Regions from separate parts of the Homo sapiens genome. Here all the other regions are linked to region 2. Evidence: fine-mapped expression QTL. A gene starts in region 2. Each other region holds a variant in brackets. All regions are shown on one strand. Distances are between the middles of the regions.

What was found. PIP is the estimated chance that this variant, and not a neighbour inherited with it, causes the effect.
Region 1: its variant is the best candidate, but not a certain one, in a credible set for the expression of PEG10 in tibial nerve (GTEx, PIP 0.61).
Region 3: its variant is the best candidate, but not a certain one, in a credible set for the expression of PEG10 in blood mononuclear cells (TOPMed, PIP 0.68).
Region 4: its variant is the best candidate, but not a certain one, in a credible set for the expression of PEG10 in whole blood (INTERVAL, PIP 0.70).

The regions. Positions count from the first base shown.
Region 1 is chr7:94,632,390-94,637,389 of GRCh38, reverse strand. All of the region lies in intron 1 of SGCE (sarcoglycan epsilon), which reads left to right. It also overlaps a transcript of CASD1 not described here. Among named protein-coding and RNA genes, the nearest start is that of SGCE, 21 kb to the left of the region's middle. The variant T/C (reference allele first, on the strand shown) is at 2,654.
Region 2 is chr7:94,653,749-94,661,278 of GRCh38, reverse strand. It overlaps PEG10 (paternally expressed 10), which reads right to left and starts at 4,954. Exons shown (of 2, transcript NM_001172437.2): 1 at 4,688-4,954. The coding sequence starts at 4,692. It overlaps SGCE (sarcoglycan epsilon), which reads left to right and starts at 5,146. Exons shown (of 11, transcript NM_003919.3): 1 at 5,146-5,289. The coding sequence starts at 5,181. RefSeq lists enhancers at 2,628-2,922, 3,702-3,751, 5,021-5,798 and a silencer at 2,992-3,231.
Region 3 is chr7:94,490,275-94,498,419 of GRCh38, reverse strand. It overlaps the pseudogene RNU6-1328P. Among named protein-coding and RNA genes, the nearest start is that of CASD1, 15 kb to the left of the region's middle. The variant A/C (reference allele first, on the strand shown) is at 4,497.
Region 4 is chr7:94,549,046-94,557,190 of GRCh38, reverse strand. It overlaps CASD1 (CAS1 domain sialic acid O acetyltransferase 1), which reads right to left. Exons shown (of 18, transcript NM_022900.5): 14 at 7,557-7,658; 15 at 5,713-5,853; 16 at 4,764-4,841; 17 at 2,616-2,708; 18 at 172-1,699. The coding sequence ends at 1,433. The region is part of intron 1 of LOC105375404 (a long non-coding RNA gene); the gene reads left to right. Among named protein-coding and RNA genes, the nearest start is that of CASD1, 43 kb to the right of the region's middle. RefSeq lists an enhancer at 1,032-1,081. The variant T/C (reference allele first, on the strand shown) is at 4,130.

The sequences.
Region 1 (5,000 bases), 23 kb after region 2:
GATTATTTTTCTTTCTTCTCATCCTATTTATATCCTATCATTATAGTTCTGAATTATCAAGATACCTTATACAGGGAGTAAGTTTTGTCAACTGTATGAGGAGAATTGTTTCATCACTTTTAAAATTATAATAACAAATACTAGTAACTTGTATGGCAAGGCCATTTTAAATGCTGTCTCAGATATAGAATGTTCTTTGAGATGTTCTTGACCATGAATCCCAGTCATCTCTTTTAGAAAATTTCAAGAGAGCACAAAAGATGATAGGATCATTTATATATAAAATAAATTTGACAAATATATGTTTTGTGTAGCTTTTTTTTTTTTTTTGAGATGGAGTTTCGCTCTTGTTGCCTAGGCTGGAGTGCAATGGTGTGATCTCAGCTCACTGCAACTTCCTCCTCCCGGGTTCAAGTGATTCTCCTGCCTCCTGAGTAGCTGGGATTATAGGCACCCACCACCACGCCCTGCTAATTTTTTGTATTTTTAGTAGAGATGGGGTTTCACCATGTTGGCCAGGCTGGTCTTGAACTCCTGACCTCAGGTGATCTGCCCGCCTTGCCCTCCCAATGTGCTGGGATTATAGGCGTGAGCTGCCAGGCCCAGCAAAGAATATTCCAATTCTTAGCTAAAGCGGTAGGATGGTACTTCTTCTGTAAATAGGATTCTAAGGAATTTGAATGCCTTAACTTTTGACATTCTACCTCAGCACCCAGTAAGTGGTTACAAAAGCAATAAGGAATACTCCAGATATGGACTATGGAATCTCTTCTTTTTTTCCCTGGAATGGGAGTAGGGGACCTACTTGAGCAAGCTGAGGGCCATCAGCTTCTTTGACACACCCACTCTTCCTTTTTTCTATTTTCTAGTTATGGGTCCTATAGGCTTGAAGCAGTCACTTAGTCCCTCTACGTTCAATTTTGTTATCTATAAAATGGACTGAACTCTCCAAGAGAGCAAATGCATGCAAACTCTGATTGTTAGTAACTGTCAGGAATCCTGGGTTAAGTAGGAGGCAGAGGCCATATGCAGGTAGGAAATAATGTTATGATCTGTCTCTTAATAAAGAAATATATTTGGCATGCCCAGACAGGATGACATATAAAGCTCTTTTCAATGTAGCATGCTATGACACTAAGCTTATTGATCACCAATTAGCAATGGTTTGCAACCTTTTTCCGATTGACATTTAAAAAACACACACATGAAATCACACAATAATCAAGATGTTTAGTTCCACTTTGGAAAAACTGAAAGTAAGTGGTTTTAGTTGGGGAAAATATCATGAAGAAACTCTTCTGCTTTTTTGTAGAAGATTCAAGTAATGGTTTCCTCTCCTACTTCATGTAAAGAAAAGTGGCCATATCTCCTAGAGAAATGAAGTTTACAAAGACACTGTAATGCCTTCTTAGTGATGGATTCCACAGCCAAGGCATGGACTATCTGTGACTGAAAAAAAAACAATAGCTGGCCAATGCCAGATGAATGGCCTGCAGTACTTTGATGTTGAGTGAATTAAAGGTGAAGGGCAGACTGCTGAGAAAAGCTTTTGATTCAAAGCCAAGATTCATAAAGTTGTATTGATAAAACACAAGGTAAATCTTAGTGAGAAAAACAAAAACAAAAACAGGTTGTCTAACTGGCTGGATATTGATCTCTCTTAAAATATTTCTCTACAGCAATTACCTGGCTTAATAATTAAATTTCAATTTGACTGTAGTAACAACATGTTAAAAAAATAAATTAGAAAGGAATCCATAAATGTATCAGGCTATGCAAACTTTGAAATGAGTTCTTTTGATGCAGAGACAGCAAGTGAGATTTGCCTCTTGTTCAATTCCTATGTATACAGGGACTCTGAATCTCATAAAGAGTTTTTAGATGTTAAAACTATAAAATATGAGACGAGAAGTATTATTTTTTGTCAGTACTTAACATTTTTAATTATCAGGGATGATGATACCTAGTTGCTTAGGCAACAATTTATTTTAAAAGATACAGCAGATAGGTGGCTGTTTAGTACTCTCTTTGTATCCTCAACATACCTTAAAACCTTCTTAATCATTCTTATCCAAAACATTTTTTTAGATAATACTTACTGTTAAGGCAATACTTAAACTAAGTTCAAATTACTTGAACAACTAATTTCCTAGCTGTGAAATATATACTATCATATTTAAATAATTTGAACTTAGTTAAAACACCTTTGCGATGCTTCCCAATGAACAGCTTCCATCTTCAAACTCTTCATGTGAGAAACAAATTGATAAAATTGAAATGCTTTTAGAAATAGACTTTAATTGCTTATTAATAAGTTACTTATTAATTATATTGTGTTATAGTATCTTAGGCTGATTTAGCTATAACTAAGGGCAACATATCATTTAATCCATAGATCTCTTCGTTTAAATTGTGCAGTGTATTTCCCACATATCGAATATGTAAGTGTTTTATACAATGCATTCAATCCATTTTTTATTTGACAGTTCACAGTTATGTAATATATGGGTTGAATTAAGACTTTCAATTGTACACCTATTTATTTGTGAATGTATTTTATAACAGAGTTTCTGCTGCCATCACCTTAAGTAATGGCTCTCTCTCAAGTATAGTAAGATCATCTATTCAGAAGTGTACTGCGTCAACTAAGAAC[T/C]AGGAAATACGCCACAAAAGAGTCTTTCGGCAGCCAAAATAGATGCTGCGAATGCAGGCTCCTGTCTTTTACATCTAGCAGAGCCCTATGTGTGTTAAACAGCACGCATTTGTTTTTACTTCAATGTGCAACCCTGCCTCATTTGGTAGTCTGGTTTCTAAACCTGCAGCCGATTAATAACAGCAAATTAGAGGGGATAGAGAAGCTGCTATGGGAAACATACTGATAGCAATGAGAAATGACAGCTGACAACTTGTCTACAAAAGAGAAAACAAAATCTGTAAAACACACAACCTTAAAAAGCATTAGCAGACTGGGACCCACAGTGTGATCGGTAAATGACAAGGCAACCAAACAGTCCATACGGGTATCACCGTATAATAGAGCAGAGTGCAACAATTGATGTACAAAATGATGATCTTATACCATCATGAAAAAGAATCAACTGCAGAGTACTTCAGAAACATCAGCTCTGTGGAACAATTCATTTCATGTGGTTCTGGTAAACTGAGATTTTATTAGATCCTTGTAAACCTTAAAAATTAGAAAATGATGATATAAATGGACATTTTAAAGTGATTAGTTTATTAATAAAGCATCTATAAGAGAGACCTAAACATACTGGGTACCTAATCAAAGTCACCCGGACATAAATATTGACAATACTTTATGACTTTCTTCTCAAAGATTTCAGAAGACAGATGGCTTTAAGATTTAAAACTAGCTCAAACTTGCAGGGTCTTATACTCAGTTGTTATTTTATCTTTATAGCCATGTAATTGTTCTTGGTGATGCAGAAAAAGAACTGGCAAGTGTTCTCTGGACATTTTTGTAGTGAAGGGGCTGTGTGTGTGCCTGTGCTTATGCACATGCCATTAAGAATAATCATTGTGAGAATTGTGAAGTTATATGCTGTGGATTCATTGGCAGCGTACCACCATAGTACTTTCAAAATTTAATGTTTACTAAATACATTCAAACTTGCTTTGAAGGTAATTGTAATAAGCACACGTGCACACCCATATATTTTCATTATGGAGAGAGAGTTTCCACTGGACTATTAGTAAAGGAAAACAAGACATTGTTTAGCTAGCATGAGCTCCCTTTTTTTTTGCTACTGCTTTCGTGGTCTGTTATTTGATTCTGGGCTCTATGCTGTCACATAATATAGAGTTGTTGAAATGGCTGCAGATTCTATACCCTGTGAATGAAACATACAGATAACAGTTTTGTGAACAAGGTTTTGGTAACATGGTGATGAGATAAATTGGATCTATGTTTAGGGAGAGCGAGATAATGATCCCAGCTACTTGCTTACATAACCCTTTGGCTCTCTCTACTCAGATATGTAATTATTACTTAAAAAATTCTGTTCCTTATGACTACCTGTCTTCAGAAGTTTTTAATCTTTGTAAATCTAGCTATGCTTGCTATTTGGAGATGATATTTTTGACCTCTTGCGGGTTGGACTTTTGGTCTCATTGTTTTTCCCATTAATAGTGATAGAATTGCATGGATTTAACCACCCATAGTTTTCCAGTTTCATTTATATCTAGTGGCGTATGTTTGCAGAGGTAATGGATTTGCAGCCGTAGAAGATTGCAAAACCATGCGATACACAGAGAGGCCAGACCCTGTTACCTTGGCTTGATTAGCATGGCACTGTACACATGTATATTTCAGAGATTATTAGATCTTAGTGTTGTGGATTCTTAGAGTGTTTAAATTTGATTTTCAAGACTTGCTCTTAAGGAAAACAACATGCTTTAAGCTTATGGTTTGTGAGTGCTGCCTGGGCATATGTGACTGCAACATGTGTTAACTGTTAGTAATAGCCTCTGTAGGTGTTGGAGTGGACCCCATCAGCTTTATTTATATAGCTCACGTTTAGAACAAGAACCTATAGCTTCGAATTCTCTGTGTCATTTGTTGTTTTTGAAAGGAAGCATAGGTGTAAATACTGCCTAAATTGCCTCCGTTGCAGAGCTATTTGTTTTGCAAGTAACAAATGCGAAAGGGAAAGGCAAAGGGCACTCCTCTAAAATGTTGTGTGGGTGCCTGTAATTTAAACTGATGCTACAGAAAGGAAGTATTATTTTTACAAACAAAACATAGTGGCTTAGTCATTTTCCATTTCTAGATGATGAATGTGTCATACATCTGTATCATGTTTTTCTCAAAGTGAATGGCATACTATACTTAAAGTGAAGCAGCCTTTACTGTGGAGTTGCCAAGGTAACTGACCAGCAAGTATGCAGTTCAGCAGATTGCTGAAAGGCAATTGAGTACACATGAATAAAGAAATGTGCTTGTCATCTTCAAACCCAGGAGGGCCATGGTAGATTGT
Region 2 (7,530 bases):
AACATAATGCAATTTTTCCTTATTAAATTAGGAGTTTTCATGTCCCATTAATGAACAACTAATAACCATAAGTAAGGTGACTAAGGTACCACTTTTGTCATCTAGACATTAATATCTTCAAAACCTTGAGACAAGACTTCCTAAAGAGCATTCACAGCATGGCCTGGTGCAGCCTGACCACTTGTCAATCACGGCCACTAAGTGGGGCTTTATTGAAGCCCAGGTCTGATGGTTTTATTATCTGCAAAAAACAGTGATGGGACAGAAATAACAATACATTAGGAAATCAGCAAATAATTACTACATGGTTTAGGGAAATAAAAGATCAATAAGAGTTAAAAATTCAAATACCTTTGGTATATAAGGAAGGTAGTTGAAAAGTGAAAAGAGACCAGAGTTAAGATGGGAGGGGCTGCAACAATGGAACTTGGGGGTGCATGCCCTCCCCCTTACCACCCTCCCCACCCCTGCCCCCCTGCCACCAGACATTTCATTCTTTTTTATTTTTTAATTTAGTTCCTGGTCAAACAAATTCAAGGCCTACTTTAGCCTGCAAGGTCACTAGCTTAAGACTTCTGACCTTTGCCAATAACAAGCCTGAGGCCTTCATATGAGGGTTGGCAAGTTTAGGGTGGGACGTTAAAAGAGACAACTGCCCAGGGAACAGTAGTTTATCCATTAAAAGTAATAGGGTAATGGGCAGGCAGGTTAACAGTGCGTATAAAAATGTTTAAACAGCGACTGAGGCAGCACAAGTTAACCTGGGACAAGAAGCATGTTTACTTGATTTGAATTATAGAACTATGTATGGCTCCTTAAACTCCCCCTTAGTAGGGGCTGCATTGGAGGGGAGGGGTCAAGAGGTCTCATTCCTGAAAACTGAAAGGACAAACTGCATAAAGCCAAGTTGCCTAGGACAGATGCCATCTTTACATGATAATAATTTCAGTTTTAGTCTTTTTAGGAAATAAATACATTTGGTTAATTATTGACTCTTCACAATAGCTTGGAATAATTTCTATTCCACAAACACACCAAAGAGCAATAGTAGCCAAAAACCATAAATGAACATCCTGTTAGGAAATGACATCTCATTAAGCAACTCTTAGTTGCTTCATATTTTCAAATGTCCAATTTTTTAGTACTATCTTGTACTATTTATGAAATGCAAATTCTCTTAATATGCATGTTATTACTGTTGTTTTGAACCTCTTCAATATGCAAATATACAATATCCAAAGAGAAGGGAAAATTACTTAAAGCTGTAATTATGATAAGCACAAATTTTCCATAGATTGTGTACTTGTGGTGGGGAGGGGGTATGTGACAGAGATTTTTGGGAGCCAAAGCCCCCAATTCCTCCCCTACCAAAGTCCTGGCTCATGATTTGTAATATATGGAACCAGGTTTTAAAATTTCTTCATTCAGCTGGAAACACAATTCTTACATGGTACCTCTTACTAGCAATCAGTTATAAATTTGTTTTATACAGTTGTTTAATTTTGCAAGCTGAAACAACCTATATTTTGTAATGTGGCCACTTTATATTACATTACACAAACTTTAATACAATATGTACCATTAATAATACACTTGCCCCAAATTTAAATTAGCTTTTTATGAAAAAAGCTAATTATTTGGAATAACTAGCTTTTTATGAAAAAAGCTAATTATTTGGAATAACTAGCTTTTTATGAAAAAAGCTAATTATTTGGAATAACTAGCTTTTTATGAAAAAAGCTAATTATTTGGAATAACTAGCTTTTTATGAAAAAAGCTAATTATTTGGAATAACTAGCTTTTTATGAAAAAAGCTAATTATTTGGAATAACTAGCTTTTCATGAAAAAAGCTAATATTTGGAATAACTAGCTTTTTATGAAAAAAGCTAATTATTTGGAATAATTAAAATTAATTTAGTTGCTTTGTATTATAATTACAGCTTATATCATTGGAGTTTAAAAACACATACACTTTTTTTTTATTCTGTTAAATGTGAGAGATAACGCAAACAAGGCAACCCAGGACAGCAAAGCACCATAGGAAAGGAGCAAATCAGAAGAGACCTACAGACACCAAGCAAGACACTGAATAAACCAATTTACTCTGGTCATTTAACACATATTTAATGAATGCCTACCATGTGCAGGCACAATTTATTATACATAGGCAAATAGGCTAGGGTTAATCACCTAGAGATTCAAGGAAAACACCCAGCTTCATAGGCACGCAAATAAAAGCCTTATCCTCACTCAGAGGCCAAACCAACAGCACCAATTTTGTATCCACCAAAACATCCGATTCCCAAAGGTCCACTAGTGCCTCTAAAAAAACCTTAAATGTGAAAATATTTTTAAAGTTTTTAAAAATAAATTGTTAAGTTTTGGTTTTCATTTGCAGTAAAAACATTTGGCTAAATTGCCTTTAGAGGCACCAGCCATGTCAGTTTACAAGGTCCCTTCATAAGCCACTATCAGGAGTTTAAATTGTGGGATTATGTTATTGAATATATGCAAAGAACATATTAAAAGTGCTCATAAATTCCAGTTATAATTATTATTGTTAATTGTTTTATTTATTATTCTATTAGACTCTAGTAGCCAAAAAGCAAAACCAACACAGCAGAGAAACCGCAGGGGGGCGGGGCTGTACAGCCAGGGCTCAGGCAAGGAAGGTGCGCAGGTGCAGAGGACCGGCGCCTGAAGGGAGGGGCTGAGGGTTCACACTGCGCATGTGTGCTAGCCGGCTCTGAGGGAGGTGGGACTATAGGCCAGCCCGGCAGAGGCAGGCTTAGGGAGGGGCCAAGCCTTGGAGAGGCGGGGCCTGAGCAGGCTACCTAAGAGGAGGCGGGCCTGGGGAGGTGGGATCTGGGTGAGCTCACATCAGAGGAGGCGGGCCCAGGAGAGGCGGGGCCTGGGCAGTTCACCTCAGAGGAGGCGGGCCCAGGAGAGGCGGGGCCTGGGCAGTTCACCTCAGAGGAGGCGGGCCCAGGAGAGGTGGGGTCTGGGCAGTTCACCTCAGAGGAGGCGGGCCCAGGAGAGGCGGGGCCTGGGCAGTTCACCTCAGAGGAGGCGGGCCCAGGAGAGGTGGGGCCTGGGCAGTTCACCTCAGAGGGGGCGGCCCCGGGAGAGGCGGGGCCTGGACAGTTCACCTCAGAGTAGGTGGGCCCGGGAGAGGCAGGGCCTGGGCAGCTCACCACAGAAAAGGCGGGCCTGGAAGAGGCGGGGCCTGAGCAGCTCACCTCAGAATGAGGTGGCCAGAGAGAGGTGGGGCCTGGGCAGGCAGGCGCTAAGGAGCTGGGAGGAGGGGCCTGAGGAGGCCGCATCTAGAAGGCGCGCTCTGGGAAGGCGCGCTGCAGGGGAGGCGCGCTCTGAGGAGGCGCTGTAGGAGGAGGCGCTAAGCACCGCAGAGAAGGCACACTAGGATGGGCGGGGCAGGCCTGAGACTGGCTGCTACAGGGCTGCAGAGTATCTGCACACCCCCCCCCCCCGCCGCCAGAATCCCCCCTCCCAAACCCCTCCCACCAGTCACCAAAGCCAGATTCATTTCATGCAGCAAGAGCAATCCACAGATCCAATTCCCCCGCCATACTCAGCAAACCCACAGTTTCCACAAACTGTTGCTGGACGCTGATTCGCGCCACCACAACTACACCGCCACTTCAATCAAGCACAAGTAGGCAGGCAGCCTGCTCTGCCATCACCAAAAGATTCCCATTTCCACTCCAATCAGTGCCCCTCCACTCCACTGCTATAGCGGGAATGGTGTGGGCAGAATGTTAAACACTAATTTTTGCCCGGGGCTCCATTTTGTCTACCAGCACCATCATGCGAGAACCGTCCTGCAGAAAAATAGAGTGGGAGCCATTCCAAAAGGTGAAAGGGTGGGGTCCTGCTCCAAGAAAACAGAGGAATTGTACTCCGCAGCTCATGTCCCACTACGGCTGCTTTATTTGTAGCGCAAACGGTCTGCAGCTCCTGTACCTCTGCAGCTCTTACCACTTTGTAGTGCATCTTAGGTGTGAATTGTTCCGCAGCTCATGTACCTCTGCAGTTCATGTGCCTCGCAGCGCAATGAAGCGCTGTTGTCGGGCTGGCTAATCGCATCGTTTTTGTAGCGTTTTTTGTAGTGCTACTCTTCTGCAGCTCAGATTTTGCAGCGCATGTAAAGCGCAATTCAGTTTTCTGTCTGCAGCTCCTATATCGCTGCTCCTCGTTCTGGATTGTAGCGCCACTGAAGCGCCCATCCGTCAGTTTGTGGCACATAAAGCGCCCATCAGTTTATAGCGCAATGAAGCGCCAGTTGTAGCTCCCATCAGTTTGTCGCCCGCGTGAAGCGTGCTTGTAGCGCATCTGAAGCGCCAGTTTGTAGCGCATTTGAAGCGCTTATCTGTTTGTAAAGCATGGCACTTGGTAGCGCATTTGAAGAGCAAATTGCAAATCGATCTATAGCTCCTGACCGTCTGCAGCTCATCACTGTCCGCAGCTCATCTCTGTCTACAGCCCGTATCTGGACTTGGTCCTGGAAACCCAAGCCTTTAAGGCTTGGTTTCCCCATTTGTTTTGGGGTACAGCCAGTGAAGGCGTGACAAGTTTTGCGTGGAGACATTCTGGGGTGCTACTCCATCTCCCGCAGCTCCCGATAAGCACGGGGAATGAACGTGATCTTTAAAAAAAAAACGTCCTCACCGCATACTCACCACGCGAGGACTCCTCTGCGAAGACAGGAAGGATGGGGTCCCACACCTGAGCCAGGCGCGGTCTCCACTGGGTGCTCCGCAGCCCGGAGTGGCTCCGGACGACAGCCCGCTCAGCGGACCTTTCGCCAGGCTCGGTGGACCTTCTCCGCTGTTCTCCTCAGGGCGCAGTCAGGTTTCTTCGACACACACCAACCGAAGTTGAAGCGCGTGTACCAGGAGCGCAGACTGTGAGCCTTATATAGGTTGCACCGAGGAGGGGGGCGCCAAATCCCAGCGTGCTCCGCGGGCTAGGGGGTGGAGGGGGGTGCGGGGATGGGGGATGGGGGTGGGGGCGGTGGCCACGCTGCAGTGGCCCGCCGCTAGAGGGAGTACGGGATTACCGAGGGGGTGCGGGATGCTGATGCTGAACTGGCCAAGCTGGGAGGGAAGAAGAAAGGGAGGGGAGGGGAGAATCGAGGACGGACGGCCTAGCCAGGCCAAGAATGCAATTGCCCCGGTGGTGGGAGCTGGGAGACCCCTGTGCTTGGACGGGACAGGGTCGGGGGACACGCAGGATGAGCCCCGCGACCACTGGCACATTCTTGCTGACAGGTTAGTGGCCTGCGCGCGACGTGGAGGTCCCGGGGCCAACAGGCCGCCGCCTCCCCCTCCCCCGCTCGGGTTCCGGGCGCCTGAGCGCGCCCTTTGGGCACCAGCCTCTCTTTCTGTCCCGGACCCCACCGTACCCCTCCTTCAGTACACCCTGTACCCCATTTCCCCGGCCCAGCTTCTCTCTCCCCAGGCTTGACCCCTGGCCTTTTTTTCCTCTCCGCGCCCCCGCGGGCCCCTCCCTGCTCTGCGGGCGCAGAAATTCCATCTCCAATTCCTGTTCCCAACATCCCCCTCCCCGCCCAGCCCCAGGGTAGTCCTCTCCCGATCCCTGTAGCAAAGAGCTGGGGGTCGTTGCCTGTTTTTCTGGGGGGCCCGTTTCCCCGCGATTGGGCTCTGCGACCGCGATGCGAGCCAAAGGAAATGGGTGTCAAGCTGCGTCCCCGCTACACAAACACATCTTTTTTCCTTTTCTTGATAGTGGTAGAGAACACAAAAATGTGACATTTAAAACACCGAATTTCCCCCTCTTGCTAAGTGCATTTCTCGGTGACGGAAATCTCGGTTTTCTTCGGTTTTACGGAGCAGGGAAGCGGAATCATGAAATGCTGGGAGCTAAACAGGGCGTTCAGGTCAGGGTTAACCCCGGCTGGAGGCCAGAGATGCTGCCGTACCGAGTGCGCTATTTCCAGAAACCAAAACCAATTTAAAACAGCTGTGGATGCTTCCAGTGTGTTTGGCGGGCTTTGAAGGCTCCCAGCTACCGACTTTTGGTGGCGATTACGAGGTTTACACAGAGACCTTGCTTCCCTTGCAACGTTACATTTTCCTAAATCTTGTAGGGTGAATGAATGCGTTTAGTCACGGCAACCGCACGTTTAATCCTTTCCAGCGGGTTGCCGAGATTCGGCCACAAATATTTGCGTGCATTTGTACTATGAACATATATATTTTATGTCAGGGAAAATTGCAGTGGCTGATAAGACGCTAAAATTCTGATGAGGAAGGATGCTAAATAAAACCTTAACGCGGATTCCCATCTAAGCGCCTCAGTGTCAGGTGCTTGGGAAACTGACAATCTGTTGATGATCTTAGTAAAACAAGTTTAAGTTAAAAGGGAAAACCAAATTGTCTACAGCTGAGTTAGGTTTCTGAAACACAGATGAAACGCTTTCATATTTGAAGAGCAAAATTGAGCACATTTTAGTAACATTGCTACGGATTATTTTATACTTGGAATATCAATAAGAATTTGACTTATTGTCATAACAACGTTGCAGACACCGCACTTTAAAAGAGAGCCTTTCTAGGAATAAACAAAACTGTAGCCCATTTACTGAGATTTTACTTTTTATTAGAAAATGCCCACTATCCGGAATATGAATGAATGAAATGCAGCTTTTTAACAAAGACATTTCCCTAGGAAGTTGGGTAAACACAATTATACTTTTTAGAAGTGCCTTTTAATTTAATCTTTAGGATGTTCACCCTCTTCTGCAAGATAGAATAATTCCAGGATTTCTTATGCTTGGTAGAGTACTGTTCTGGTGACCGCTGTCAAATTCTTACCAGTTTTGTTTGTTTGTTTAAATTCGAAAGTTACTTCACCTAGTTAACTGAGACATTATTTTTCTAAAAATTGAGATTTAAAACCAGTATAGATGAAAAGCAGGAAAAATTAAAGTTCAAAAATCCATCTTAAGACTTTAAAAGTTTGAACAAGTTTGAACCAATTTGATTTTTTCATTTCAAAATGCTAACCAGGACTTTTTTTAAAAAACGTAATTAGTATTTTACCATAATAAAAGTAATTTCAGGTCATTGTACAAAATTCAGGAGAGAAAACCCTAGAAAACTCTAAAGAAAAGGTCACCTGTAACCTATTCACCCTGCAATAACACCAGTAAACATTATAGAGTCTGCTTTTTCAGACGTTCTCTATGCATATATAGGTAGCTATACAATAAATATTTTTCATAGGATTGCAGTTAAATACTTTCTAAAAGTTAAAAACAAGATCAAATTAATTCTCCTCGATTATTTTCTTTCCAAAGAGCCTTTAAATGTTAAATAACATTAAGTTTGGAGAGCTTTCTTTAAAGGAAATAATATTAATTTTTTAATTAAAATTTTAAATGAACAACCTTAGTACATAAATATTTAAAACCAGAAAACTGAGAAGAATTTTCTCCCATCTCACTATTCTAACATATTGTAGTTTTTTATTCCTCTACATATGAAAAT
Region 3 (8,145 bases), 160 kb after region 2:
GTAAACACATGTGTCAGAGACCAGATATTTAATTAACAGAAAATAGCCAAGTCAAATTCAGATACATTCCCTTAGATAATTAAATAATCCTTGGTTAAGCCTGTTTAAAAAAAAAAAAAACACTATGACATTGAAGTTTCCTCCTTTTTGCCAAGCTACCTTTTTGCCTTATTTCCAAGTTTTAAATACGTTTATTTAACAGCCTCTTTTTGTGATCATAAATAACCTCTGGAGATTATTCTTGATCACTCACATATAAAGCTAGTTTCATATTTTGTCATGATAGTTCACATAGTTCACATAGCAAGAGGTATTAACTAACTGTATATACTTCCTTGAACATTCAGTATTGAGCAACTACAGAGGCCAAATAATTAAATTCTGTCAGGTAATTTCATTAGGGAATATAGGATTCAATTCTTTAAAAGCCTGTTATTTTTTTCTTCTATCCCAAGACTACAAAACCAAGCCCCAAAATTCTATCCACCAAGATTACACTGTCATTTCTAATAGATTCTGGTGAATTTCTTTCGACTTGAAGTCTCCAAATACTCTTGAGGTCCCTGGCTGACTAGTAAGTGATACTGCTCATCACTTGTGAGGCTTTAACCATAAACCAGGTTGATTTTTTTTTTTCGAGTGGGAGTGGGAAGTGAAATTTGTGGTCATTGTTTTCACATCTTGCTCCTTAATGATGAGCTTTCCATATTTGATTAAATGTCATTTTGATACGGACAGGAGGCAGGGAAATACTGAGTAGAAGATGGTGGTTCCCTGGCAAAGGCTCCACCTGGAAACTGCCACCCTAAATAAGAATAGTTATTGCTGTTTTCCTGCCCGAACATTGCTTTTTCCAAACCACCCTGGCCTGCCATGCCCCCATCCTGTGTACCCATAAAAACCCCAAACTCCTCTGGCAAAGGAGCAGAGCAGCACAGCAGAGAAGGAGAGAAGAAAAGAAGCATCTGAATATCAAAGAGGCAGCTGGACGGTCAGAGAGGAGTTTGGCTGGGGGTGGCCAAACTCAAGGGAAGATTGTCTTCCCACTCCATCCCCTTTCCAGCTCCCTATCCCACTGAGAGCCACCTCCATCAATCAGTAAAACCTCTGCATTCACCATCATTCAAGTCTGTGTGACCTGTCTTCCTGGATGCCGGGACAAGGACCCCAGGTACCAAGAGAGCAGGTTATAAAAAGCTGTTGCCACAACTCTCCACTGAGCTGGTTAACACTTAGCTGTCCATGGATGGCAACTGCTAAAAGAGCATTAATTGTAACACATCCCTAGATGCTACCATGGGGCTGGAGCCCAAAAACACTCACCCAGGCCCCGGCACCCGCTTGCCTGCATGCTCCCACTCCTGCGTGGGGTTTGTGTGGTGGCTGAGTAAATGAGCCACACCCATGTCACCTGAGAAGGGGTCCGAAGAACTCTCCCATCTCAATTTATTCTCAAATGTGACTCCAGGCTGGGCTTTGTATGATGAGGTCAAAATTGAAGACAGTAAAATTCTCTGTTGAGGTGCAATACATAATTATTATTTTTGTTTTTGTGAGACCGAGTTTCACTCTTTTTGCCCAGGCTGGAGTGCAATGGCATGATCTCGGCTCACTGCAACCTCCACCTCCCGGGTTCAAGTGATTCTACTGCCTCAGCCTCCCGAGTAGCTGGGATTACAGACATGCACCACCACGCCTGGCTAATTTTGTATTTTTAGTAGGGAAGGGGTTTCACCATGTTGGCCAGGCCGGTCTCAAATTCCTGACTTCTGGTGATCCGGCCGCCTCAGCCTTCCAAAGTGCTGGGATTACAGTCGTGAACCACTGCACCCAGCCGCAATACATAATTTTTTAATAAGAATTTGATCAGTGTTTTTCTTATAAGTAAAACAATACTATGAACAGTGAGAGCACAGACAAATATCCAGGGCCTTCCAATTTATTCTGTAATGTGTACAGTCTCAGAAATAAATGTGTGAGTAATATTTTGTTTATAAAATTTATCCTTTAGATGAGTCCATGTCCTTTGCAGGCACATGGATGAAGCTGGAAACCATCATTCTCAGCAAACTATCACAAGAACAGAAAACCAAACACTGCATGTTCTCACTCATGAGTGGAAGTTGAACAATGAGAACACATGGACATAGGGAGGGGAACATCACACACTGGGGCCCATCGGCGGGGTGGGGAGCTAGGGGAGGGGTAACATTAGGAGAAATACCTAATGTAGGTGATGTGTTGATGGGTGCAGCAAACCACCATGGCACGTGTATACCTACGTAACAAAACTGCACGTTCTGCACATGTACCTCAGAACATAAAGTATAATAAAACAATTTTTAAAAAATAAAATGTATCCTTTAATTTGACTACTATTTTGATCAATTCTTACAATAGTGTTGAACTAAGAAAAAAAGTCAAGGAAACAATTATTTGGTACATCTCTACTTTTGTAAAACAAAAGAAAAAAGCTTCATGATTTTCTAGGGGTCTTATGGGAAATTTCAAAGATAGTTTTATGTGTGAAGAAAATCCTCTAATTTTTATTTTTCCGAAGCTAGGATGTGATTGTGGGAAAGCAAAACCAAGAGTTATTGGAGTACTTTAGATCACCTATTAACATAGGGTCAGATGTGCCTGAGAAACAATAAATTCAATATCTGTTGATCAAAATGACAATACAATATTTTAAATAACAAGAATATGATGACACAAAAGAAAGGAGTCTTAGCTTTTCAGCAAATGAAGAACTTTAAGTTTTTGCTGCTTAAAAATCAAGGGCTTGAAAATATGACCATAAAACACAGAAAACTGTTTTGATGGGATATGGAATTTCTGCTATGTTGTCAGGCCAGATAGAATGTAAAGGCATAAACTTTTACTACCCTTTGTTAAGAGCAGACCAAACAGTTTGAGATACACTGTTATTTTAGTACATAGAAAACCAAATTCTAGTTTTACATTAATATAGTAGTTAGCAGGAAAGGATTTATTAGCTCCTTGCTCTATTTTTTTTTAATGGAACACATCATGATTTTGTGTGTCATCCTTGTGCAGAGGCCATGCTAACCTTCTTGTATCATTCCAATGTTAGTGTACGTGCTGCCTAACTGAACAACCTGCCCTATTTCTGTTGTATTTTTTTGAGACAGGGTCTTGTTTTGTCACCCAGGCTGGAGTGCAGTGGCATGCTTATGGTTGGCTGCAGCCTCCGTCTCCTGGCCTGTCCTATTTAAAAAACAAAACAATCTTACAAATAAACTCATCAAAATTGAGGGAACGTTGCCAACATTTGAGTATATTTTATTGTTTCTTTTTCAACTCATTATTTGCAGTGAGGCAAATAAATTGTTTTCTACTTACAACTTTCTACATCTATTCAAGATTTGTTTTACACAATTCTTTTTCGCATTCTAGAAGAACCAAACCTTTTAGTTTAAGACAGAAAATATTTCCATTACCTCGCATTCATAGTCACAATTTTCTGCTACTATTGCTTTAGTATAGTCTTTGATTATTTGTATAAATTCTAACTTTCAGTCAAAGTAGCTGATTTCTATTTCACAGAGAAAACTAGAAGGGGATGTAGAAGTATCTATTATACACAGTTTAGCAAATTAACAAAACTAATGAAATCACCTCCTAGAGTCACCCACATCCATTTTTCACTCCTTTAAATCAGAGTAAACCCAATCATTAGTAAGGTAAACACAGTCATTAACATGAACAACAGATATATCCACTATAAGAAAAAAAGTGTATATATTCAAAATATGTAGGGTGACCAAATTTTAGTATTCTATTTCCCTTAAAAATTATCTAGGTGTCCAAGTTATCTATTAAATAACTTGATCTAAGAATAGACTCAGGTTTTAAAGTTAAATAAGGATCTTAGTTATGTTGACAAACTACAACTTACCGTATTCTAATTTAAGAATTTAGACCATTTGTATTCACATAGCTTAATGTGGGGACTTAGAACAGAGACTCCCCCACGTTAATTTGACTTACTTATTGTTTAAGAAATTCTTGCCCAGAAATATAAAGCTATAAACCAATATATAACTTTACTACTTGCTTCAGGAAATTCCTGAAAAGCAACTTGTCTATATAGTTTGTTCATCTGGCCAAGCAGTTCTTCTATCGGGATAATAGATTGCTTATCTGGCCAAATGGGCAGCTTATTAAAAAAATTACTTACGGGCCGGGCATGGTGGCTAATGCCTGCAATCCCAGCACTTTGGGAGGCTGAGGTGGGCGGATCACTTGAGGTCAGGAGTTCGATACCAGCCTGGCCAACGTGGCAAAAGCCTGCCTCTACTACAAATACAAAAATAAGGCTGGGCATGTTGGCTCACACCTGATCCAGCACTTTAGGAGGCCGAGGTGGGTGGATCATCTGAGGTCAGGAGTTTGAGACCAGCCTGGCCAACATGGTGAAACCCTGTCTCTACTAAAAACAAAAAACAACAAAACAAAGCAAACAAACAAAA[A/C]AACTCGCCAGGCGTGGTGGCAGGTGCCTGTAATCCCAGCTGCTCAGGAGGCTGAGGCAGGAGAATTGCTTGAACTCAGGAGGCAGAGGTTGCAGTGAGCTAAAATCTCACCATTGCACTCTACCCTGGGCCACAAGAACAAAGCTCCAACTCAAAAAAAAAAAAAAAAAATTAGCCAGGTGTGGTGGCAGGTGCCTGGAATCTCAGCTACTTGGGAGGCTGAGGCAGGAAAATTACTTCTTGAATCCAGGAGGTGGAGGGTGCAGTGAGCCGAGATCATACTACTGTACTCCAGCCTGGGCAAAAGAGCAAGACTTTGTCTCAAAAAAAAAAAAAAAAGAAAAAGAAAAGAAAAGAAAAAGAAAAATTACTTATCAAGGCTTATGTCAAGAAGTTGGCCTTTCTGGGTCTCCTAATCCTAAACTGTAAGTCATGAACTGTCCTCCAGTTCAGTTAGTTTCTTGTCTTGATAAACCTGACTTAAACAACTGAAGCCTAGATCCCTAAGCCTTATAAATATCCTCCTCTTACGTTCCCATTTTGAGATATTACTAGGATCTCTCAAGGTGGTATTCTCCCTTGCTGTAGCAGACTGAGCTTTGATTGATCAACAGAAACTGTAAGTTTATCAATGTTTTTGGTGTAAGGTTGAGAAATTTGTGGCAATATTGTTATGTGGCAATAGAAAACCAGTTCAACCCCATCAGTAAAATTAGGGAAGAGTCATATAGCTGTTTTCAAATCAAAAGTTACCAAACAAGCCTAATCTGTAAAAGATTCACCTTTATTTTATTTTTTTCTCATAAAATATATGACTCAAAAGATTCACCTTTATAATATGAACTCATGTTTTCATACAAACCTGCTTCTGATCTTGAGATTTCCATAATAATTTTTAAGCCTAGTTTTAAAAGAACAATTTATTTCCTGAGAAATTTGTGAATGCCAGTTATAGAAGTGCTTATTTTTCTCTATGAACCAATTAGAGAGAAGCTATTTAAATTTCAGAGACTTTATAATTTAATTTATTTACATACATGAGGTGGAAAAATGTCAAACTCACGCAATGAAAGGTAAAGGTTTTTCACAATTACAGATAGACTTACTGAGACTGAGAACTTGAAGTTTCAGTTCTACAGCCTCAATCATGAGTCAACAGTAAACACAGAACCATAAAAATCACTAGTGCAGATCTCAAAGGGACATTTTACTTTTAGTGAGCATATAATGTTTTCCTGATTGAGTTGAGCTCACAAATAGTCAAACAGACAAGTAAATAAAAAGAGGGCTAACAAACCGGTTTTTTTATTCTCTCTCACCCAACAGAAACTGATCCCCTTTATATCCTGAGAGAGGTCACTACATGATCACATCATAAAACCAGATTCCCAAATACTACCCAAATACTACTTTTTTTTTTTTTTGAGACAGAGTTTCGCTCTTGTTGCCCAGGCTGGAGTGCAATGGCTTGATCTCAGCTTGCTGCAACCTCCGCCTCCTGGGTTCAAGCAATTTTCCTGCCTCAGCCTCCTGAGTAGCTAGGATTACAGGCACCTGCCAGCACACCTAATTTTTGTATATATATATATATTTTTTTTTTTTTTTTTTTTTTTTTTTTTTTTAGTAGAGACAGCTTTCACCATATTGGCCAGGCTGGTATTGAACTCCTGAACTCAGGTGATCCATCCACCTCAGCCTCCCAAAGTGCTGGGATTACAGGTGTGAGCCACCACGCCCACCCCACAAATATGACTCTTATGAATGAAGAACAACTTGTTGACTATGTACAGTCAGACTTAGATATACATGAGATGCTTTTTTGACTATGAAATCAATCGTCGATGTACCCACTTGTCCCCAGGTCTGGCTGGGGACAAGAGTTAGACAAGACATCAAGAGTTAGCTAAGAGCCAGAAAAAAGAAACAAAAACTCCCATGGTATACTTAGAGAATGATGATTTAGGCTTATTTATTTATTTATTTATTTATTTATTTAAATAGGCTTTTGGGGAACAGGTGGTGTTTAGTTACATGAATAAGTCCTTTAGTGATGACTTCTGAGATTTTGGTACACCCAACACCGAAGTAATGTACACTGTACGCAATGTGTAGTCTTTTATCCCTCACCTCCCTCCCACTCTTTCCCCTGAGTCCCCAAAGTCCATTAAATCATTTTTATGCCTTTGCATCCTCACAGCTTAGCTCTCACTTATGAGTGAGAACATACAACGTTTGGTTTTCCTTTCCTGTTTTTTTTCACTTAGAATTTCATCCAGATTGCTACAAATGCCATGATTTTGTTCCTTTTCATGGCTAAGTAGTATTCCATGGTATACATATACCACATTTTCTTTATCTACTTATTGATTAATGGGCATTTGGGCTGGCTTCATATTTTTGCAATTATGAATTGTGTTTCTATAAACATGCACGTGCAAGAATCTTTTTCATACAGTGACTTCTTTTCCTTCGATAGATACCCAAAAGTGGGATTGCTGGATCCAAGGGTAGATTTACTTTTAGTTCTTTAAGGAATCTCCACACTGTTTTCCATAGTGGTTGTACTAGTTTACACTCCCATCAACAGTATAAAAGTGTTCCCTTTTCAGCGGAGGTTGCAGTGAGCCGAGATAGTGCCACTGCACTCCAGCCTGGCAACAGAGCGAGACTCCATCTCAAAAAAATAATAATAATAAATAATAGATGCCCACATCTATTATTTTTTATTGTTTGATTATGACCATTCTTGCAGGAGTAAGGTGGTATCACACAGTGGTTTTCATTTGCATTTCTCTGATAATTAGTGATGTCGAGGATTTTTTCATGTTTCTTGGCCTGATATAGGCTGTTTTAGTATCAAAGAGTTTACATGAGCAGTAGGATGGCCAAAGGGGCCATATTACTGATGATCTTGAATGTTTAGAAGTGACAGCAAATCACTTTTTAATATGTTAAAATAAATTTTTCATGAAAGATAAAATCATAACTTTTATATTAATATAAAAATAAACATGTTAAATATTTGTTTAACTCAAGAGGAAACAGGTGAGGTGTTACAACGAAGTCAAGGAGGAATTTTTAAAAATTATAAATCAAGAATATTTAAATAAATGTGCTAATGAAGGTAAGACTGGCTTCATGGGGACAGGTGGGAAAGGAGGCAAGCCAGTTGACTCTTCACCAGAGAGAATTTACACTTCATAGACAATAATTATTGTACATTGCTATCAGTTATCTACAATATACAGAGTTGTAAATAGCTCAAGCACAATGAAGGACAAGAATCAGATGCCTGGAAGTTTATGATCTAAATAATACATACTTTTTTACATTGAAGCACAATTCTTTCCCTACAATAACCTCAACTGGCTTGATGATGGGAAAGCAGTAAGACACATTTGAAAACTACCTTAGGGGAAAAAACTACACAAATTCATGGTTTCTTGGATGTAATAAATGATTAGGAAATAGGATTCAGAGGTCATTCATTACAAGTGTGGCAATTGCCTACTTGTTTGGTGGATTGCTTCATGGGAGCTAGGATAATGACTTATAATGTTGGGGACAATAATTGGAAGCGGAATAAAACATTTTAGAAAGTAATCATTTTGTTAACTCAAGTTCTATGACATTGAAATAGAGTTCCCTT
Region 4 (8,145 bases), 100 kb after region 2:
GCTTAAACTTCCTTGGTGGAAAGCAGATGACCCTCTGAAGCTCTGATAACTAAATGATTCCTTATCCAACTATCATTTGGTAACCTACCCCTACATATTAAGCAATTTAAAAAGCAAATTTAAGTTGAGGAAATAATTAGATATTTGAACCAATCATGAATGGATCCAGCATTTTTGAAAAAGAACACATATAGTTTAATTGATACTTTGCCAATACAAAAATAAGCATCCACAGAATGTTTATTTACTGTTTAAATTACTCCATATTTTCATATACTGTGAACAGAAAATATATTTTACCCCACATATAGTAAAAGCAAACAAGTGCAATCTTTCAAACATTAAAATCATAATCAAATCTGTACAACAGATAAATAAATGTATACCTCTAACAGTTAGCTTGTAAAAAAAAATCAAACAAAAAGCAAAAACATTTATTGCCCAAATTCACCAGTTTACTTAAAATTCTACTTATGGTAATACAGCTCAATCGTAACAACTTGCATGTTTACTACACTGCACAAGTTTAGACTGATAAATATTTAAAATAGGAGGTGGGTAATAGGAAATACCAAATGGCTATAAAGAGCTTTCCAAATATTGGAAATAATATACGAAAATTAATTAGTGGGGATAACATATTAAATGGATCCACAGGGTAACTGGTATTACACTGGTATAGCTTGAGGAAAGGAAACAGGTGAACGTTTGGATTGGAAAAAAAATTTTGGCTTTTTTATAAAACGAAGCAACAATAACATCAACAATGACAAAACCCTGTCATGGAGCCTCAGAACTATTCTGTGAGACAAAGTGTACAAAGATTTAGGCTTGCATACCCGAAAACCACAGTTAGGAAGAAAAATCATTTCAGGAAACAACATCAGAACAAGAACACATATAAATTAAAGGCATACTGTTTATCATTCCACTTCATTGCACATATAAGAAAACAATACTGCCGTCATTCTTGAGTAAGAAAGTTTCCAATGAAAGAGGAAGTTCCACAATGAATACAGGTGCAGACAGTCTTATTACCACAAATTTAGTTATATCAAAACACTTGGTGGTGTCACTAAGTTAATTAAATTATCTATACTTTTTACTGGAAAGGTAATCATTTCCCTGCCTTCATATGTTAACTTAAAATCACTTACAAATGGAAATATAGATTCAGTAGAAAAGACTTCACATGCAATCCTATACAATGCATTCTGGTTTTTTGTTTGTTTGTTTGTTTTAGTATTTCATATTGGATATGTACATTTCCAATATATACAACCACATATGTTCAACAGATGTCACAGAACTGTCCTCTTGCCACAAACGTTTATATTTACATACACATTTATATCTCCAGATAGATGCTTTTCTCTTCTAGAGACACACAAAGGTAGCCTGAAGAGTTTAGGTTTTTTAGAATTTTTGGAACCTAATGTTTTGATTTATCTTGAATGGATGATAAGATGAGGAGTCCACAAAAAAATGCAGCTATACATGCCAACCTTTTCAAGAGAGATGAGTTATCTTTAGGAATAATAATCTGTGCAAGATCATTAGTGATCTGAGAAATTTCATGTGCCACACAAACAAATATGAAAGTGCTGACAATGATGTTGAGCATAGGGTTTCCAGGTATCAGTACCAAGATACCCCTTGTGTCCGCTGCCAGCCATATGTGATACTGGCAAATAAATAGCTAGGAGAAAAAATATTTAAGTCAGATATTTATAGAGGGTCCATGAATAAATTACAGTTTTCCCTAATTTAAACAATTTGGTTGCATAATAACATTAGAAGGCTTTCCTAAAACCATTTTATTCTGTCTCACTACTGGCCCTGAAAAGTCCACTGCAGTCTACTCCTTAGAACTCCAACTGCTAATACAATCTCTCTTATAAATGAGACCAAAGAAAATAATAGAACAATTATTCAAGAACTCAAAGAGGAATTTATTTTCCCTATTTTAAGAGACAATTTAATAAATCCTATACTCTAAAAACTCTAAAATATATGTTGTTATTACAATATAAATTGTTTTAAAACATTCTATTTCAAATAATAAAGCTTAGACTACTCAGAATACATTTTAAAACCTACTGTTCAAACTGATTTTGTAGATAATTTCATATTATGTATCTTACACAAAATGTAATGAGTTTATACTTTCTCCCACAATTTCCAATCATAATAAGGGTAAATTTTATTATGGTATGCATCAATAAACTGAATTCCAGTAATATATTTAATTATGGAGATGAACAAAAAATCAAAATCCCCTCAGTTTGATTTCATTTATATACCTGGTCTAATATTTTTCTCTCTTGGTCTCAGCATCTTGGTTGTGCTTGAAAGCTCAAGACAACGTAAATAATATTTTGCAAGTAATCTATATCTAGTCATTTAAAAATAAGGCTTAAAAACATTCCAAAATACTTTAGTATTGTTGAAAGTTCTAAGTCTTTTCCCTGTAATTCCATAATAGCTTCAGTTTAGAAAAAAGTACGTCCGATTTTCATACTCACATATATGTGTGATATTTACACACACACACGTACATACACAAACATGAAACACCTGGCTGTGTAAGATAAGCAAAATATTAATGTACCAACCTCTAATGAAATTTTTCCAAACCAAGCAAAAAATGAACTGTAAACTGAACGGGCATATCCAGGGATGTTTCTTATTAGGATGAAGGCTAAAATCTAAAGAAAAAGCACAAAAGCAAATATTAATAATCTCTTTATTGAAAAGTATTTTGTATAAAGCTTTCTTTTAAATGATAACCTTATTCTTTATGTTTGTGAACTTGACACATATACAACAGTCTTTTTATATTCTAAAAGTATTAGAAAGTTATTTTTGTTCTAAAGTCTACCCAAACTGGATTTCTCAACACATGGTCGGTATGCTGCATACCAATGAACATTTTAAGTAGTACATGGCTGAACAATTTTATGTATACTGGAAAAATTACAGATTTGCCTAAGGCCCTTTGTGTAGAAAAAGTTGCTATCATATTTATGTAGCAACACTTCACAAAATCATATAATTTTGCTGCTCTCATAAAGTATCTGCTTGGTTGACAGTCATTCCCTCTCTTGACTCCCTTCAAAATCCTCCTTCCGCTGACAGCCATGATAGTACGGGAAATGGCATGGCTTTTAACATGTCTTCATGTTTGCTCTGCATGGCCTGGCGAATGATGTCTTGAACTATATTCACATGTAATATATTTTCCTCTCTGGATCTTTTCTCTCCCGAAAGAATCTCCAGCTTTTGGGATCCTGGCCTTTACTCCTCTCCCCTGTCCTTTTGTACCAGGTGGAACAATCTTTCATTTTCGGTGGAACAATCTTGCATTTTCTTTTTATTTATTTATTTATTTATTTATTTATTTAAGTTCTAGGGTACATGTGCACAACGTGCAGGTTTGTTACATATGTATACATGTGCTGTGTTAATCATTGTCTCACATCCAATAACCAGCTTACCAAGCAAAGAATCCTTGCCTTAGAATGTACCCTCCTTATAAAAAGCAAGAAACTGTAAAGAAAAAAAGTTATCTCCACTTTCACAACTACTTTCCAGAAACTTTCTCTTACAAAAGGATTGACAAATCTGTTCACACTTCAGGGAAAAACTCATATTCAATGTTGATCAACCTGGGCATTTTGTCAAAGGATCTAAGAAGTCTCTAGGATGCATAAAAGATGAAGGAGGAGGAGATAATATGGGAAAAAGGAACCAAAGTGAACCACTCAGGTATAATTAAATTGAGTGATTCTCATGGGCAATAGCATCAAAAAGACTCAAGTTTAAATCTAGTCTTTTGCTTGTGTTAGTCCTGGGACTTGTGGCAAGGCACTTAATCTTGTGGGTCTTTTTTTTAATTTAAACAAATAGAGATAAGCTTTACTTTGAAAGGTTCATGTGAACATTAAATGAGAAAACATACATAAGGTACTTACTATAGCACAGGTTGTGAGTCATTTAAAGAAACATTGTAAATAATTAATAGTATAAGTGATATACAGAGTGGTGAAAATCATGAATGTGAGACCTAAACAAAGGCTTTAAACATAAAACCATTTAATGAGTTATTATAATTAAAGTATTGCATAAG[T/C]TGTACAACGCTAAAAAGAATGTAGGCTCCATAAGAGTAGGAACTATGTCTGATTTGGTAACCACTGCAGCCCTTGGCATAATATCTAGCATGTAGTATTAACTTTTTGGTTTTGTTTGTTTGTTTGAGACGGAGTCTTGCTCATTGCCCAGGCTGGAGTGCAATGATGCAATCTCAGGTCACTGCAACCTCCGCCTTCTGGGTTCAAGTGATTCTCCTGCCTCAGCCTTCCAAGTAGCTGGGATTACAGGTGCCCGCCACCACGCCCAGCTAATTTTTGTATTTTTAGTAGAGACAGGGTTTCACCATGTTGTCCAGGCTGGTCTCAAACTCCTAACCTCAGGTGATCCACTGGCCTTAGCCTCCCAAAGTGCTGGGATTACAGGCGTGAGCCACCATTTTCTAAGGGCAGATTAAGTGAAAAATACTGAGCTACATCATTTCCATATATTAAATACAAGAACCCTTTGAAAGAGATTTTAATATCCCTATTACTACAGAGAAAGGAAGGGCTTAGAAAGATGAAGTAACTTCTCTACATTTTCTGGAGTTCAATCTCAAATCTCTCTGCCTCTAAAAACCATTTTCTTATCAAGAATTAAGATGTAGAAATTTCTCTAAATCAAGATAGTACCTGTACCACAGAAACAGACGGATGGAGTTCATTGCACTCTGCTTTGTTTTTACAACTGCTAGCCCAGATGGAATAGGTCTAAAACAAAAAATGTATGGAAAAGTTCAAAAAAGCAAGTCTGGAAGAGGCATAAGCCTCACAGTGTTTTTTTTTTACAGTTCTTTATTTATAACATTATACTTCATTATGCTATGTAAAAACTATCAGTAAAAACTGCTTGCAAGTTTGCTCATCACCTGTTTTGGTATGTTCAACTGTCCAAACATAAGAAAGCACAGAGGGAGGTGCACAAGTCTGTGCTTTTCTGGAAACAGTGATCAAAAGGCAGTGATGGCTCTCCATATGAAACACCTTACATTACATTTTATCCCAAATTTATTGTAACTTTTAAAATTCCCGTTTAATTGAGCTCTTATTTATTCTTCATTTTTAACTTATATATAGTCTCTTTAGAATTTAAGTCCAGTTAGAAAAATAAGGAGATATACATCGCCTCAAGCATTTAACATTACCTTGATTTGATCATTATGCATTGTATGCTTGTATCAAAATATCACATGTGCCCCATAAATATGAACTAATATGTATTCATAATTAAAAACAAACAATTTTAAAAAATTATTGAAACTATTTTTATAGATAAAAATATAGTTTATCTTGGCAAACATTTTGCATGCATTTGAAATAAATGTGTATTCTGCTGTTATTGCTTACCTAACTATTCTAACATCAGGTCAAACTGACCGTGTCCTTAAGATATTCTACAACTTTACTAAATTTGTCTAGCTATCCTATCAATTACTGGGAGAGAAGTATTAAAATTTCTAAATATTAAAAAGAAAAATAAGGAGAAAAAAAGATTTATTATTAAAAATAATTGATTATATTTCCATATCTTAATGTTAATATTCCATACCATTTAGAATTTTGGAAAGTTTTCAAAACTTACCAAGAAAGAAACTACTGAAATAAACAACAGAAAATTTGAAATTTTGTTTGAAAAAAGAGGTTCACCCTTTCCTTCAGAAAGTATTTGACGCTTCTGCAAAGCCAGATAAATAAAAGCAAACAGCATTCCGTGGAAAACTACCTGAAAAGTAAAGAGAGAAAATTTGTTTTAAACAGTTACTTTTCAAAAAACAGGAAAAATATTTGGTTAGTGAGGAATATATGAATAAAAGTAGGTAGGTTAAAAGCTTAAAGTTTGAAGTGTCTATGAAGGACTTCAAGAGTGAAACTTCAAGAAATGAAATAAAGCCGATGATTGTTAGAAACCATCAGCAATAGACAAGCAAGCATCTCTTGGAACAATATGAGATAACACTGGTTGATTCTGAGCAGTCTCAGTGGCAAGTGAAGTAATAAAGACAATTTAAAAATAATAAGGAACTCTCCTACAGACATATGATAAAATTTAAATGCACCCAACAAAGATGAAACACATTTTATATCAGTCCTTTCAGTCAAATAAAACAAAGAATAACACCACCAAGTCATAATTCTGAAAAGAAGTGTACGCTCATAAAAGTGAAAAAAATATGGTAGACCGGAAAGTACATGAGCTTTCTCTTTTTAAACAAGGACTTAATGTGAACTATCATTGCAATAGACTGAACATTTCCTTCCACTCAAAATCGTAAGTTGAATCATGTTAATCCCCAGTGTGACAGTTTTGGAGGTAAAGCCTTTGGTTGGTCATTAGGTCAGAGCCTTCATGAATGGGATTCATGCCCTTTAAAAAAAAAGACCCCAGAGAGCACCCTTGACCCTTGCAGCACATGAGGACAGAGTGAGAAGTCAAGTGTCTATGAAATAGCAAGTGGGCCCTCACCAGACCAAATCTGCTGGTGTGATTTTACACTTCCCAGCTTCCAAAACTGTAAGAAATAAATTTTTGTTGTTTATAAACCACCCAATCTATGGTACTCTATTACAGCAGCCTAAATAGACTGGGACAGTCGTATCATAATACACTGCTCTAATGAGAATGTTGAGAATTTAAAAATTATTTGATGTGAAGACTTTAGCAAAGATTTTATTCAGATGTGGTTTTGAAATGCAATGTAGTACACTGGAAAAATGCATAGGGGTTGGAAACTAGGAAAGGCAAAGAATAGGCACTAAGAAAACATTTATTGGAAAAAAGAGATCAGTCAAAAAGGAAAGGAAAAAAGGAAAGAATGAAATAATTAATAGTTATTATCAGTTTTCCAAATGCTGTGCTAGATTTACATTTTCCTGGCCAATTGAACCTTAACCTTTCTTCAAGATCAAGTTCATAGACTAATACAAGACACTGCTCTTTCTTCTTTGCACACTTCTACCACTAAATCTATATTGCATAGTTAGTAGCCTCTTATAATAGTAATCTTGGGTTTTAAACTAGACTCTGAAAGCTTCGAAGCCTGCTGAGATGTCTTCTTTCTTTCTCTAATGTATACTTCATGGCATCAACATCTAGGGCACATATTGAAACTCAATAAATATTGTTTTGAATGGCTGAAGCATATATACAACAAGTCACCTATAAATCAAAATTATAAGTCAGACAAAGGCCATGTTATAGATAATATTTTAAAATAATATTTCCCAGCAGATATATATATACACATGCATACCCTTTCACTGCTGTAAAGAAAAGAGTGCAGGGGGTAGTGGACTGCTGGACTGCTTTGATTTACTAAATCAACATCTTTATTTATTCTGAAACTAAGTATAGATAGATCAAAAATTTCCAATCATTTTCCAACAGTATAATTTGAAATGACAAAATATCACAAAGTAAATACATACATAACGGTCTAACCTCCATCTGAACCACCATTCATATACATTCCCTTTCAGTTCAAAACACTTGGACAATGGCCAAAGAGAAAAGATCTTCTCAAATGCACCCTGAAAAAAGGAATCCAGAAAATAAATTAAGATGGTACAAGTCAATATTTGCTTTGCAATTCTATTACAGATTATAGTTTTCTGAAGTTTGGATTATATAAGAGTCATTCACAATGTTAAAATTCTGTTTTATTTCATTTGAAAATATCACTTCATTTGAAATGTATTTCAAATGAAATTTTAAAAATTTGAAAATAAATTTATCTTCTAATGACCAAAAAAGATGACTTAAAACTTGGTAAACTTATTTTCATTTCACATGAAAGGCTACTGAGAGTGTAAAATTTTCTTAAGCCCCCAAATCAAAAAATCTGGTAATTAGAAAATCATTCTACCTAAGGTTTTTAATCTCACAGACAAAATAACTAGTATTTACTCATCAAACAGAAAAATACAAAATATTTCAGCCAGTATGGTATCAGTATCCCAAATAACAACTGTTAAAGTTAAAATATAGTTATCATTCTCCAAATGTCCTCAATAATCT